Linked DNA regions of Homo sapiens: regions 2 and 3 are each reported to be linked to region 1. The links are microRNA targets in miRTarBase. Many come from high-throughput screens and were not tested one by one. Region 1 holds a microRNA gene; each other region holds the end of a gene's coding sequence.
What was found. Region 1 holds the annotated microRNA hsa-miR-3686 (AUCUGUAAGAGAAAGUAAAUGA, at 2,006-2,027, opposite strand). A microRNA usually pairs through its seed, bases 2 to 8, with sites in the 3' UTR of a target mRNA and lowers its output. Matches are read on the target gene's strand: a 7mer-m8 pairs with bases 2 to 8, a 7mer-A1 pairs with bases 2 to 7 and ends in A, and an 8mer does both.

Region 1 (4,152 bases):
AGTAGGAAACTAAGTGAATGTGATGCAGTAGTCTATTACATTGTCACTACCTGGCAAGCCCAGTCTCTTCTGAAGAAAGCTGATCATATTATCCACAACACTGAACAAAACCCAGTGCCCCAAGAATAGGAACTTGACCCATAAACTGTCACCTAAGGTGGCTTCTGGCTTCTGAGTTCTCTTGGTACAAAGCACTTGCACACAAGAAATAATAGTGGTTTACTGAGTCTATATAAATATCTTTTTATTTGTTTCTTTTTTTTTCCAACTTTTATTTTAGACTCAGGGGGCATGTTTACAGGTTTGTTATCTGGGTATATTGCATGCTGAGGTTTGGGGTATGAATAATCCCATCACCCAGGTACTGGGCATCATACTCAATAGTTAGTTTTTCAATCCTTGTTCCCCACCCTCTCACCTCTAGTAGTCCCCAGTGCCTACTGTTGCCATCTCTATGTCCATGAGCACGCAATGTTTTACTCCCACTTATAAGTGAGAATATATGGTATTTTGTTTTCTGTTTCTCCATTAACTTGCTTAGGAGAATGGCCTCCAGCTGCACCCATGTGGCTGTAAAGGATATGATTTTGCTCTTTTTTATAGCTGCATAGTATTCCATGGTGTATATGTACCATATTCTCAAGAAATTCTTTTTAAAGGGAGATTGGATGTGAAAAAAAAATTTAAAAATCCAGAGCTCAAGCTATCTGCCTGCCTTGGCCTCCCAAAGTGCCAGGATTACAGATGTAAGCCACTGTGCCTGACCTATATCCACTATCGTGATTGCAGATGTATATTATGTCCAAACATTTAAAATTATACACTTTAACTATGTGTAGTTTCTTGCATGTAAGTTATAGCTCAATATAGTTGTTAAAACAGTTTAAAATAGCTTTAAAAAACTGTCATAGCTTGATTCAATGAATCTTTTTATATTAAAAAAAAAAGAAATACATAAAAGACCAGTTGGCCACAAGACAGTTGGCCACAAGAGGGTAGAGAATAGACATAAGGGGCAAAGAAGAAGAGGAAGAGGAAGAAGAGGAAGAGGAAGAGGAAGAAGAAGAAGAAGGAGGAGAGGAGGGAAGGGGGAAGGGGGAAGGAGGAAGGGAGAAGGGGGAAAGGGGAAGGGGGGAAGGAGGAAGGGAGAAGGGGGAAGGGGGAAGGAGGAAGAGGGAAGGAGGAAGGGAGAAGGGGAGCATTTATAGAAGCATGGGCAATAGTTGCAGAAAGAGAAAGAACTCTGGTCAGATCATCAAAATGCCAGAGAAGAGAATTGAACTCCAAAGTCTGTGCTCTTGATCTCTACAATAAGGGCCACAGATCCTCATGCCTCTGGGGCCAGTCGAGTAATAGAAATGAGAGGTGGGTGCCTGAGGAAGCCTATGTGAAAGTGGAGCGTGCACAGCCTTTCAAAAGGGGGAAGCCACTAGTGTATTTTGATAAATGGTACTCTGTGGGAACATGAGCCAAATTTATCAGGTCTTCTGACTTTTCAAGAGAAGACAGGAATTCAGATATCCATGGGAAAAGTCCAGTGTTTTAATGTTTAAAACTAATTTGGTCTTTTTTAATCACTGTGCAGGCAAAAATACATACACACACACACACACACACACATCATTTTTGGGTTAGATTTAGTCTACAGACCTTCAGTTTGAGAATACTGCCTTATACTATCAGCCATAAGACAAGGGAGATGTTTGGTGCAATGTCCAAACTGCCTTCTCTGACCACATATGCAAACAAGAAAGGAGAAGATGTGCTATCAGCCCAATGAGAAAATATCTCAGAGTTCCAGTTGAACTCTGAGAGAAGAATCCACAGAAGATGTTTCATCAAATGGCCCAAGCCATTTCATAAATCCAAAAGGAGAGCATATGTGTGTTTCTGGTCAAGATACAGTAATAGAGACTAGATTTACCTTCCCCTTGAAACAACTAAAAAGCCAGCATTTAAAACACATGAAACATTTTTGAGACATTGAACCTAAGTCTCACCTCTTTCATTTACTTTCTCTTACAGATCACTGTCCAGTGCAGAAAAGTGATCTGTAAGAGAAGGTAAATGAATGAGGTGAGCCCTCTGACTGCCCCAGCTGACCGCACAGACAGTTTCCAGGCCACAGCACAGGGAGAGGAATCCCCATGGAGCTGGGTGGTCCCACTGAGTTGAGATGATGGATCTGAGAATGCAGGAAACCAAAATGGCTGAAGTTTGAAGAACAGAGCACTACCACAAAGAGAGCTACCTAACAGAGGCACCAGAGATTCTACAGAGTCCTCCTTGAGTCTTTAGCTGTGCACTAATCAGCACATGCGTGCAGAGACTTTATGAGATGAGGGTGGGGGGAAGCACCAACAAGGATTAGAGAAAACATTCCCTGCCACGACACTGGCACCAGGAATAATTCTTTTTTCCAGTAACCTAAGTGGAAAACCTCATACTTCACGGAGTATTGGGTAAAATGTTCAGAATAGTTTTGCTACGTAATGAAAAATAGATAAATTGTCACTCTATCTTGCCTTTAAAAGCTTAAAAGCAAAATTCGAAAGTATCAGACAATAACAATTGTATACCACTGTGAAACCATCACCACAATCAAGATTACGGGGAAAATCATCAATCCAAAAGGTTCCTCCCACCTTCCTCCTCTCCTTCCCATTTTTGGACTCTCCCCCTGCCCTTCCCTTTTCCCCAGGAAAACAATGATCTGGTTTATCCTCATTATGTAAAGTAGTTTGCATTTTTCAGAACTTTGTTGAAAGGGAATTAAACAGTATGTGCTCTTTTGTTATCTGCTTCTTTCACTCAGCCTGGGGGTTTTCAGATTTATCTATGCTGTTGCCCATGCCCATTGTTCACCCCCTTTTATTGTTCTCTAGTACTGCAGAGAATGAGAGAGTATTTCCATGGCTTAGCAGGTTTGTCCTCTGAGTGTGCGGGTCTGTAAGGAGAGCAGTGACTCTCCAAAGGGAAGGAGCATTCTACTTCCTCAAAGCTGAAAGTCAGAGATATAACATGTGCAGAAAGCCAGGAGGGCACAGGAGGAGTACAAAGCCAGTCGTGGCTATCCAGAAACAAATGCCAAAGGCTGAAGCAGCCTTCCAAGGACCAGGAGGGAAGAATTTGGAACAAATGTTTACCACTGTGTGTAGGGGTTGACCAAGAAGCAAGAATAAGGAAATTTGTTTTTGACCTTTGGAAAATGAAATTTAGAGTTTGTTTGGAACACTCCAGGTAAATAATAGTTACTCAATCTCTGACCCAGTTGCAAGAAAATTTCACCTGCTGTCTCTGACTGTATTTTATATATATATGTAATATATTACATATGTATATATTATTATATATTATATATTTATGTATAACATAATATAAATGTATATATCATATATGTAGTATATACATATATAGTATGTATACATTTATCATATATGATACATATGTATATGTATATATACACACATATGTATATACATGTATATGTACATATACATATGTATTATATATAATACTATACATATTATATACATAATATAGTATACATTATATGTGTATTATTATATATTATCTATAATATATGTAATGCTAAATGTAATATATCATAGATTATGTTATATATATCATGTAAATATTATATGTTATATATTATATATTGATACTATATATCAATATATGGTGTATAAATATAATATATACCATGTATTATATATATAATGTATAGTACTATACATATAACATAACTGGAGAACTGGTTAAGAATGATTCTGAGTTTGCACAGAGATTGAAAGAATAGTGTTTTAGCAGTGGCTGTCATAGGCAGGAGATAAGAGAATGAACAGCACAGATGTTCCATTGTTGCCGTTCCTGCTCAAAGGTTTCTCCAGTTGGAGACATGAATTCATTATTTCCTTTCAGAAAAAGACCTCTCTTTGATACTCTTCTCCTTTTTTTTTGTATTTTTAGTAGAGACGGGGTTTCACCATGTTAGCCAGGATGGTCTTGATCTCCTGCCCTTGTGATCCGCCTGCCTCGGGCTCCCAAAGTGGATACTCTTCTCCTTAATCCCTCACTCATTCCAGGAGGCACAGAGCTTCCTCTAACTAACAATAAGGCAACTGGATGTGGAGCTTCTCAGTGTGATTGAGG
Region 2 (4,000 bases), not on the chromosome of region 1:
GCCCTCTGACTCTCTCTGGGTCTCTCCCAACCTCTATCTTTCAGTCTCTGTGTCTCTCTGGGTCTCTCTCGATCTCGGTCTCTGTCTCTCTGCGTCTTTGGATCTCTTGGTCTGTCTATCCTTGTCTCTCATTTGCTCTCCATCTCTCGGTCTCTGTCTCTCTTTTGTTGGTCTGTCTCTTACTCAGCCTCTGTCTCTGACTTGGTCTCTGTCTCAGTCCCTGGGGCTCCCTCTGCTTCTGTCTCTGTCCCTGTGGCTCCCTGGGGCTCCCTCGGCCTCTGTGCCCCCCACCTGCCATCCTGATATCCCCGCGTGCCCGCAGCGCGCGCTATACCAGTCCTCGCATGTGGACGAAAATGACGTGCAGACGGTGTCGCACAAGTGCCTGGTGGTGGGCCTGGAGCAGTATGAGCAGATGCTGAAGACCAAGAAGTACCAGGACAGCGAGGGCCTGTACTACCTCGCGGGCACCTACGAGCCCACCACGGGCATGATCTTCTCCACGGACGGCGTGCCCGTGCTCTGCTGAGCCCGCCGGGCCCTGCGGGCCACCTGTGCCCCGAGGGCGGCCAGGGACCCATCTCCATCACTGCCATGGCGCGGAGACCACGTGCGTTGTGTGCATGCGAGCGCTCCTGCAGGCGTGTGCATGGGGCCAGGTGTGCACGTGGATGCCCGGGTGAGTGTGTGTGCATGCACGTGTGTGCACGCATGTGCACATGCCTCCAGCCCCACCTTCCAACCCCTCAGTGCCCCCAGGACAGGGGCCCCTCTTAGCTATCAGGGTATGGCCGGACCGGCCCTTCCTGCCCAGCACGTTGCAAGCACTTGGCCAGGCCGGCCCTCCAGGCTGCTGCTGCGTGGGGGCCCGGGTGCCCCCAGGTCCATGCAGACTGGGGATTCGGTGGGGAGGGGCGCTTCTAAGGAACCAAACTGACGCTCACTCTGGGCTTCCCAAGCACCCTTAGCATGGAGCCCACCCCAAGGCCTCCCACCGTGCATGGGACAGGGCAGCCCGATGCCAGCTGGCCTACCTGACTGTGCCAGGGGCCCTGCCCCCACCCTCTCAGGATGGCCTAGACTTGGGGAACAGAGCCGGGTGGGGTTGCAGCCCGGAGTGTCTGTCAAAGGCACCAGGTGGAGAGGGCCCGGCACAGGCCCACCCTGGTCCAAACCCTCACACTACAGAAAACCCCAATGGTGCTGAAACTGTCGCCCGGCCACGCCTGGCCCCTCCCCACCCAGGAGGGAGGTGGCACTTCTTAACCTGTACAGTTTTATTGTACCAAGAGACTCGCCCCGCCCCTGTATCATAAGCCTTTAAATGGAGTCAACTTTTTAATTATATATATAAAGATAAATATATATAAATATATATATAAACTTTTTAAAACTGTGAAAAATAGCTATGAAATTATAAAAAAAAACATTCTGACGTGCAGAATATTATTTTTTATTTCCTGTTAGATTATAGTGTCTAGCACCGGCTTCACCGGCCTCCCAGTCCCCAGCACACCCCCCGCCCACCCCACCAAGTGTACTGTACTCACCCCCCAGGATAGAGAAGTGTTTGTTAGGGAGAGAAGAGGGAGAGGCAGGAGCCGGCCCAAGCCCAGGGTCCCTGCTTGGGCCCCAGAAAGCACTTAACCAGGCCCCAAGCCTTCAAGGGAAACCAAGGCCTCAACCAGACAATCTTGAGGGAAGGAAAAGCCAGACTTTGGGTTTGTTTTTTGGGGGAATTATTGGTTTTTTTTTTTATGTTTCTTTTGGAATTTTGTTTGTTGGCAAATTCTGTGTGATCTTTTTTCATAAAAAAAAAGAAAAGATTTAATTGGAAAAATAAAATTGTCTGGAGTGGTTTATTTCAGGGGCTGGAGTAGGGGTGGTGTCTGGGGGCATTCTGCCATATCAGGGCACCAAGAAGCAGGATTCGACTGGAAGAAGTTGGGTGCCACGCGTGCAGGGGCGGTGACCCCATGCAGCCATCTAAATGAGCTCATCGGCTGGGCACAGTGGCTCACGCCTGTAATGCCAGCACTTTGGGAGGCCAAGGCAGGCGGATCACTTGAAGTCAGGAGTTCGAGACCAGCCTGGCCAATATGGTGAAACCCCATCTCTACTAAAAATACAAAAAAAAATTAGCCAGGTGTGGTAGAGCGTGCCTGTAATCCCAGCACTTTAGGAGGCCGAGGCGGGAGGATCACTTCAGGCCAGGAGTTTCAGACCAGCCTGAGCAATGTGGTGAAACCCCGTCTCTACTAAAAATACAAAAATTAGCCGGGTGTGGTGGCCCACACCTGTAATCCCAGCTACTCGGGAGGCTGAGGTGGGAAAATCACAGGGACCCGGCGGGTGGAGGTTGCAGTGAGTTGAGATCGCACCACTGCACTCTGGCCTGGGGGTGACAGAGATTGTCTCAAAAAAAAAAAAAAAAAAAAAAAAAGAAATTGAACAAATTTACATGAGAAAAAATTAAAAGTTAAGTTGGATGGGCACGGTGGCTCACGCCTGTAATCCCAGCACTTTGGGAGGCCAAGGGAGGCGGATCACTTGAGGTCAGGAGTTCAAGACCAGCCTGGCCAATATGGTGAAACCCCATCTCTACTAAAAATACAAAAAAATTAGCCGGGTGTGGTGGAGCGTGCCTGTAATCCCAGCTACTTGGGAGGCTGAGGCAGGAGAATCGCTTGAACCCACGGCAAAGGTTACAGTGAGCTGAGATCGTGCCACTGCCCTCCAGCTGGGGTGACATAACGAGATTCCATCTCAAAAAACCAGTGCCAGGCATGGTGGCTCATGCCTGTAATCCCAGCACTTTGGGAGGCTGAGGCAGGTGGATCACCTGAGGTCGGGAGTTCAAGACCAGCCTGACCAACATGGAGAAACCTCGTCTCTACTAAAAGCACAAAATTAGCCGGGCATGGTGGCACATGCCTGTAATCCCAGCTACTCGGGAGGCTGAGGCAGGAGAATCGCTTGAACCCGGCAGGCAGAGGTTGCAGTGAGCTGAAATCGAGCCATTGCACTCCAGCCTGGGCAACAAAAGCGAAACTCCTCCAAAAAAAAAAAAAAAAAAAGCAAAGCTGCACATTTCCAGCCATGCCTACCACAAAATGATACTAGAAGAAAATGATACTAATGCTAAGAGTGGCCCCAAGCCCTCACCTAGATGGGGGTGGACGGCATCTCTGCACTGGGGCCTAGGGAAGCTATAGGTGGGGGTCTGGCTGCCCAGTGACTGACCTGGTTAGTGTGGGTGGCCTGCAGAGGACATTCGGGGCTTTGCAAAGAGGGTAACCCATGGAGGGCAGCCAGCCGGCCTCGGGCAAGGGAAGGGCCCGGCATGGGCTCTGGGAAACACTCTGGTGTCACCTGGCGCAGTCTTGGCCCAAGTGGCCGCCCACCTGGGCCCCAGGGAGGATGCCTGCCAGAGCATAGGTGGCCCTCGTGCCCTCCTTTACGGGACCCACATCAAAACCTGGACCAGCCCCATTCCTTGGGGAAGCTAAGGACAGAACAGGCCAGGCGCAGTGACTCATACCTGTAATCCTGGCACTTTGGGAGGCCAAGGCAGGGGGAACACTTGAGGCCCAGACTTTGAGACCAGTCTGGGCAACAGCAAGACCCCATCTCTACACAAAATAAAAGAATCTGGCCAGACGTGGTGGCACGCGCCTGTATTCACAGCTATTTGGGAGGCTGAGGTGGGAGGATCACTGGAGCCCAGGAGGTGGAGGCTGCAGTGAGCTATGATGGCACCACTGCACTCCAGCCTCAGTGACAGAGCGAGAGCCTGTCTTGTAAAGAAAGAAAAAACAAAAATGAGGCACAGGACGGGTGCAGTGGCTCACACCTGTAATCCCAACACTTTGGGAGGATGAGACAGATGGATCACTTGAGATCAGGAGTTCGAGACCAGCATGGCCAACATGGTGAAACCCGGTCTCCACAAGACAAATTAGCCAGGTGTGGTGGTGCGTACCTGTAATCCCAGCTACTT
Region 3 (4,000 bases), not on the chromosome of region 1:
CAGAGGTTGCAGTGAGCCAAGATCACGTCACTGCACTCCAACCTGGGTGACAGAGCAGAGACTCAAAAAAAAAAAAAGTGACAGTTCAGAATTGGGCTCTGGGGTCAAGGTCAGGGTGGGAGGCTGGGTGCCTGGATTGGGGCAGGCCAGGACCCCTGCTCAGCTGCGGCTCTGCCCTGTCCCCAGGTGACCAGCATGTCACTGGCCAGGATCCTGAGCCTGCTGGCGGCCAGCGGTCCCACGTGGGACCAGGTGCCCCCGTTCCAGTGGAGCACCTCGCCCTTCAGCGGCCTGCTGCACATGGGCCAGCCAGACCTCTGGAAGTTCGCGCCTGTCAAGGTTTCATGGGACTGAAGTTCTGTCCCTGCTCTGCTGCTTTCGCCCCTGCTGACCCTCGTCAGGGTCACCCCCGTCCCAAGGCCACCGGACTTCTAACTCCAGCCCCTCCTGGGGGCTTCGTTCTCTGATCTGGGGTCTGAGTCATCTCCTCCTAGAGTGGGTCACGAACCTGATGGGGCTCAGAACTGACCCCCTCTCTCCCCCGAGGTGGGTGGGCACCGTGGCGTCTCTTCTGCCCTGCCCTAAATCTCCCACTCTCTGTTTCTGTCTGTTTCCTACTGCTGCTCTCTCAACCTCATTCCCACCTCTGGGGCCCCTTCCTCGTGCTTCTCCTTCCTGAGGGTTTGGGAAGGTCCTGGGGCAGACTCTGGGGCTCCCATGGGGTGGAAGGAGCCTGTTCCAGCACCCTTCTCCCAGCTGCATTCCCACGGGTGGCCCTGGAGCTGGTGAGCTTTGTCTGGGCGTTGTCTTCGGCTGGCATTGCTCCTCCCAGCTCTGGCCCCTCTGCTCCCTCAGGAAGCAGTCCCCTCGTCTCCCTTTCTGGGCAGCTTCCTTGAGGACAGAAACTTGAAAACAAACACAAACCAAAGTTTCTGGCCATCTGTGGCTGGAGGGTTCTGAATGTCCTCTCTCCATGTCAGGCAGAGGGTCAGCCCCCATGCTTCTGCCTCAGGCCCCACCCCACCCCACCCCAGGCCTGCCCCTCACCTCAGGGCCATACCCACAGCGCCCTGATGGAGGAACCAGACCGCAGGCTGTGCCACCATTAAACAAGAGCGGCTGTGGCCCCATGCTGTGCTTCTTGGGGTGGCAGGGAAGGTGGGGTCAGCGCTTTTTCTCCTCTCAGGTTTGGGTTCTGCGCCATCCCCCATGCAGCCTCCTGTGCAGCCCTCTGTCTGTCCTTCTGTCCATTCATTCATCTGCCAACATACTCACCCATCATCCATCTGCACAGCCTTCCACCCACCCATCCGTCTTCCATCATCCATCCATCCATCTACCTATCCATTTATCATCCATCCACTCACCCATCCAACCACCCATCCAACCATTCAGCCATCTCCATCTGTCCATTTTCTTTCTTCTTCTTTTTTTTTTGTTTTTGTTTTTTCTGAGTGGGAGTTTCACTCTATTGCCCAGGCTGGAGTGCAATGGCATAATCTCTGCTCACTGCAACCTCTGCTTCCTGGGTTCAAGCGATTCTCCTGCCTTAGCTTCCCAAGTAGCTGGGGTTACAGGCATGAGCCACCATGCCTGGCTAATTTTGTATTTTTAGTAGAGACAGGGTTTCACCATGTTGGCCAGGCTGGTCTCGAACTCCTGGCCTCAAGTGATCCGCCCGTCTTGGCCTCCCAAAGTGCTTGGATTACAGATGTGAGCCCCCGCACCTGGCCTCATTTGTCCATTTTCCATCCACTTACCCACCCACCCATTTACTCATCCAGCCATTGACTCATCCATCCACCTATGAGATCAGACAGGGAGGGATCCTTTTTTGTATTGGTCTGTATACCACAGCATGGCTTACGAAGTTCTTATCTATCTATCACCCATCCACCCACCCATTTATCTACCCACCCATTCATCCACCCACCCATCCAACTACCTATCCATTCATCCATCCACCCATCTGCCAACGCATCCATCCATCCACCCACCCAATCATCTACCCACTCACCTATCCACCCATCCACCTACCTATTTGTCACCCATCCACCCATCCATCCATCCAATCACCCATCCAACCATCAATCCAACCATTTTCATCTGTTCATTTTCCATCCATCTACCCGTCCACCCATTCACTCCTCCATCCACCTACCTATCCATTTATCACCCATTTACCCATCCATCCATCCATCCTTCCAACCATTTATCCACCCATCCAAACATTTCCATCTGTTTTTCCATCCATCTACCCATCCACCCATTCACTCATCCATCCACCTTCCTATCCATTTATCATCCATCTACCCACTCACCCATCCATCCAACCTTCCAACCATTTATCCACCCATCCAACTATTTCCATCTGTTCATTTTCCACCCATTTACCCATCTACTAATTCACTCATCCATCCACCTACCTATCCATTTATCATCCATCTACCCACTCACCCATCCATCCATCCTTCCAACCATTTATCCACCCATCCAACCATTTCCATCTGTTCATTTCCATCCATCTACCCATCTACCCATTCACTCATCCGTCCACCTATCCATTTATCACCCATCTACCCATCCATCCACCCACTCATCCATCCATTCATCCATCCACCCACCCACCCGTCCATCCACCTACCTATTCATTTATCACCCATCCATCCACACACGGGTCTGTGCAGATTCATTAATATCCACCCATGCATCCATATTTATCTATTTTCTATCCATCAGCCATCCATTCATTCATATCCATCCATCCATCTATCCATCCAGATGTTTATTGAGCACCTGTGTTCTGGGTCCTATTTGGGAGCCTTGTTAACCACCAAGACCTTCCTAAGCCATATTGTGGTATACAGACAGATACAAAAAAAAAGGCTCTCTCCCTGTCTGATCTCATGCAGCCTGCCTTGGAGACAAGACTCTCCCAGTGCTGTGTGCTTGGAGAGAGGAAAGCACACAGCCCTGGAGTCAGAGACCTGGGTTTCAATTCTGTCTCCACCTCTTATTAGCTAGCTATGGACTCCTCTCTGAGCCTCGATTACCTCATCTGTGAAATGGGGTAATGGTGTGAGCAGCGTTTCCCTGGGGGATGTGATGCAGCCCACTTGGGGCCTCATGCACTCAGCATCTCTTTATTAGCAAACACTTATTGAACCCCTAGTACATGCCAGGCACTGTTATGAGGTCCCGGGGATACTTTATAACAAAAGGGACAGAAGCATTCCTGCTCTTGTGAAGTTTACATTGACTAGATAGTAAACAAAATAAATGAAATATGCAGTGTGTCAGTGCTGGTAAACCCGTGGAGAAAATAAAGCAAGGTTGGGGTCTGGGGTTGGGAATTGACTTGTGGTTTTATCTTATTTTCCTTTTTATTTATTTATTTATTTTTTGAGACGGAGTCTCACTCTGTCGCCAGACTGGAGTGTAATGGCACAATCCCGGCTCACTGCAACCTCTGCCTCCTGGGTTCAAGTTATTTTTCCTTTTTGTAGAGACAGAGTCTCACTGTGCCAACCAGCCTGGTCTTGAACTCCTGGGCTCAAGCGATCCTCCCACAGGCGTGAGCCACTGCGCCCAGCCCTGAGTGACTCTTAAACTTCAGTTTGAACTTGGGGTCATCCAGAAAGTACCCTGAGGGTGGGGTTCCCTCCATGCTCTGGAGCCAGCCCCAGTAATTCCTCTTTGATCTATGATACGGGCTTCAGCATATGCTTTTGTTGGAAGAGAGGGCTCCATGTTTGAGGAGGGTTTGCATGACATTGACTTCAAGTCCACCCACCCTTTCCCTCTCCCAGAGATGGGTGTCCAGTGTCAGCTCACACACGCCCAGGGGAGGGGGCCTCACTTCTTTGCTTCCATTGGGTCTGTGATGAAATAATTCTGACTTAGTAGGAAGGACTTCATATCAGAATGAAGTTGGCCTCCCCAGCTGCTTCTGCCTTCAGCGGAGGCAGCCTTTGTCCCACCCCAAGTCCCTCTTGTTTAG

Region 2: the mRNA of TNRC18 is a reported target of hsa-miR-3686. Seed matches in the 3' UTR shown: 7mer-A1 at 1,184-1,190.
Region 3: the mRNA of PLBD2 is a reported target of hsa-miR-3686. Seed matches in the 3' UTR shown: 7mer-m8 at 1,706-1,712.

Annotation. Positions count from the first base shown.
Region 1 is chr8:129,482,062-129,486,213 of GRCh38, forward strand. It overlaps MIR3686 (microRNA 3686), which reads right to left and starts at 2,081; the gene lies at 1,996-2,081. All of the region lies in intron 1 of CCDC26 (CCDC26 long non-coding RNA), which reads right to left.
Region 2 is chr7:5,304,635-5,308,634 of GRCh38, reverse strand. TNRC18 (trinucleotide repeat containing 18) reads left to right here. Exons shown (of 30, transcript NM_001080495.3): 30 at 323-1,824. The coding sequence ends at 529. It overlaps SLC29A4 (solute carrier family 29 member 4), which reads right to left. Exons shown (of 11, transcript NM_153247.4): 11 at 1,723-4,000. Among named protein-coding and RNA genes, the nearest start is that of SLC29A4, 24 kb to the right of the region's middle.
Region 3 is chr12:113,388,273-113,392,272 of GRCh38, forward strand. PLBD2 (phospholipase B domain containing 2) reads left to right here. Exons shown (of 12, transcript NM_173542.4): 12 at 187-3,357. The coding sequence ends at 354. Among named protein-coding and RNA genes, the nearest start is that of SDS, 14 kb to the right of the region's middle.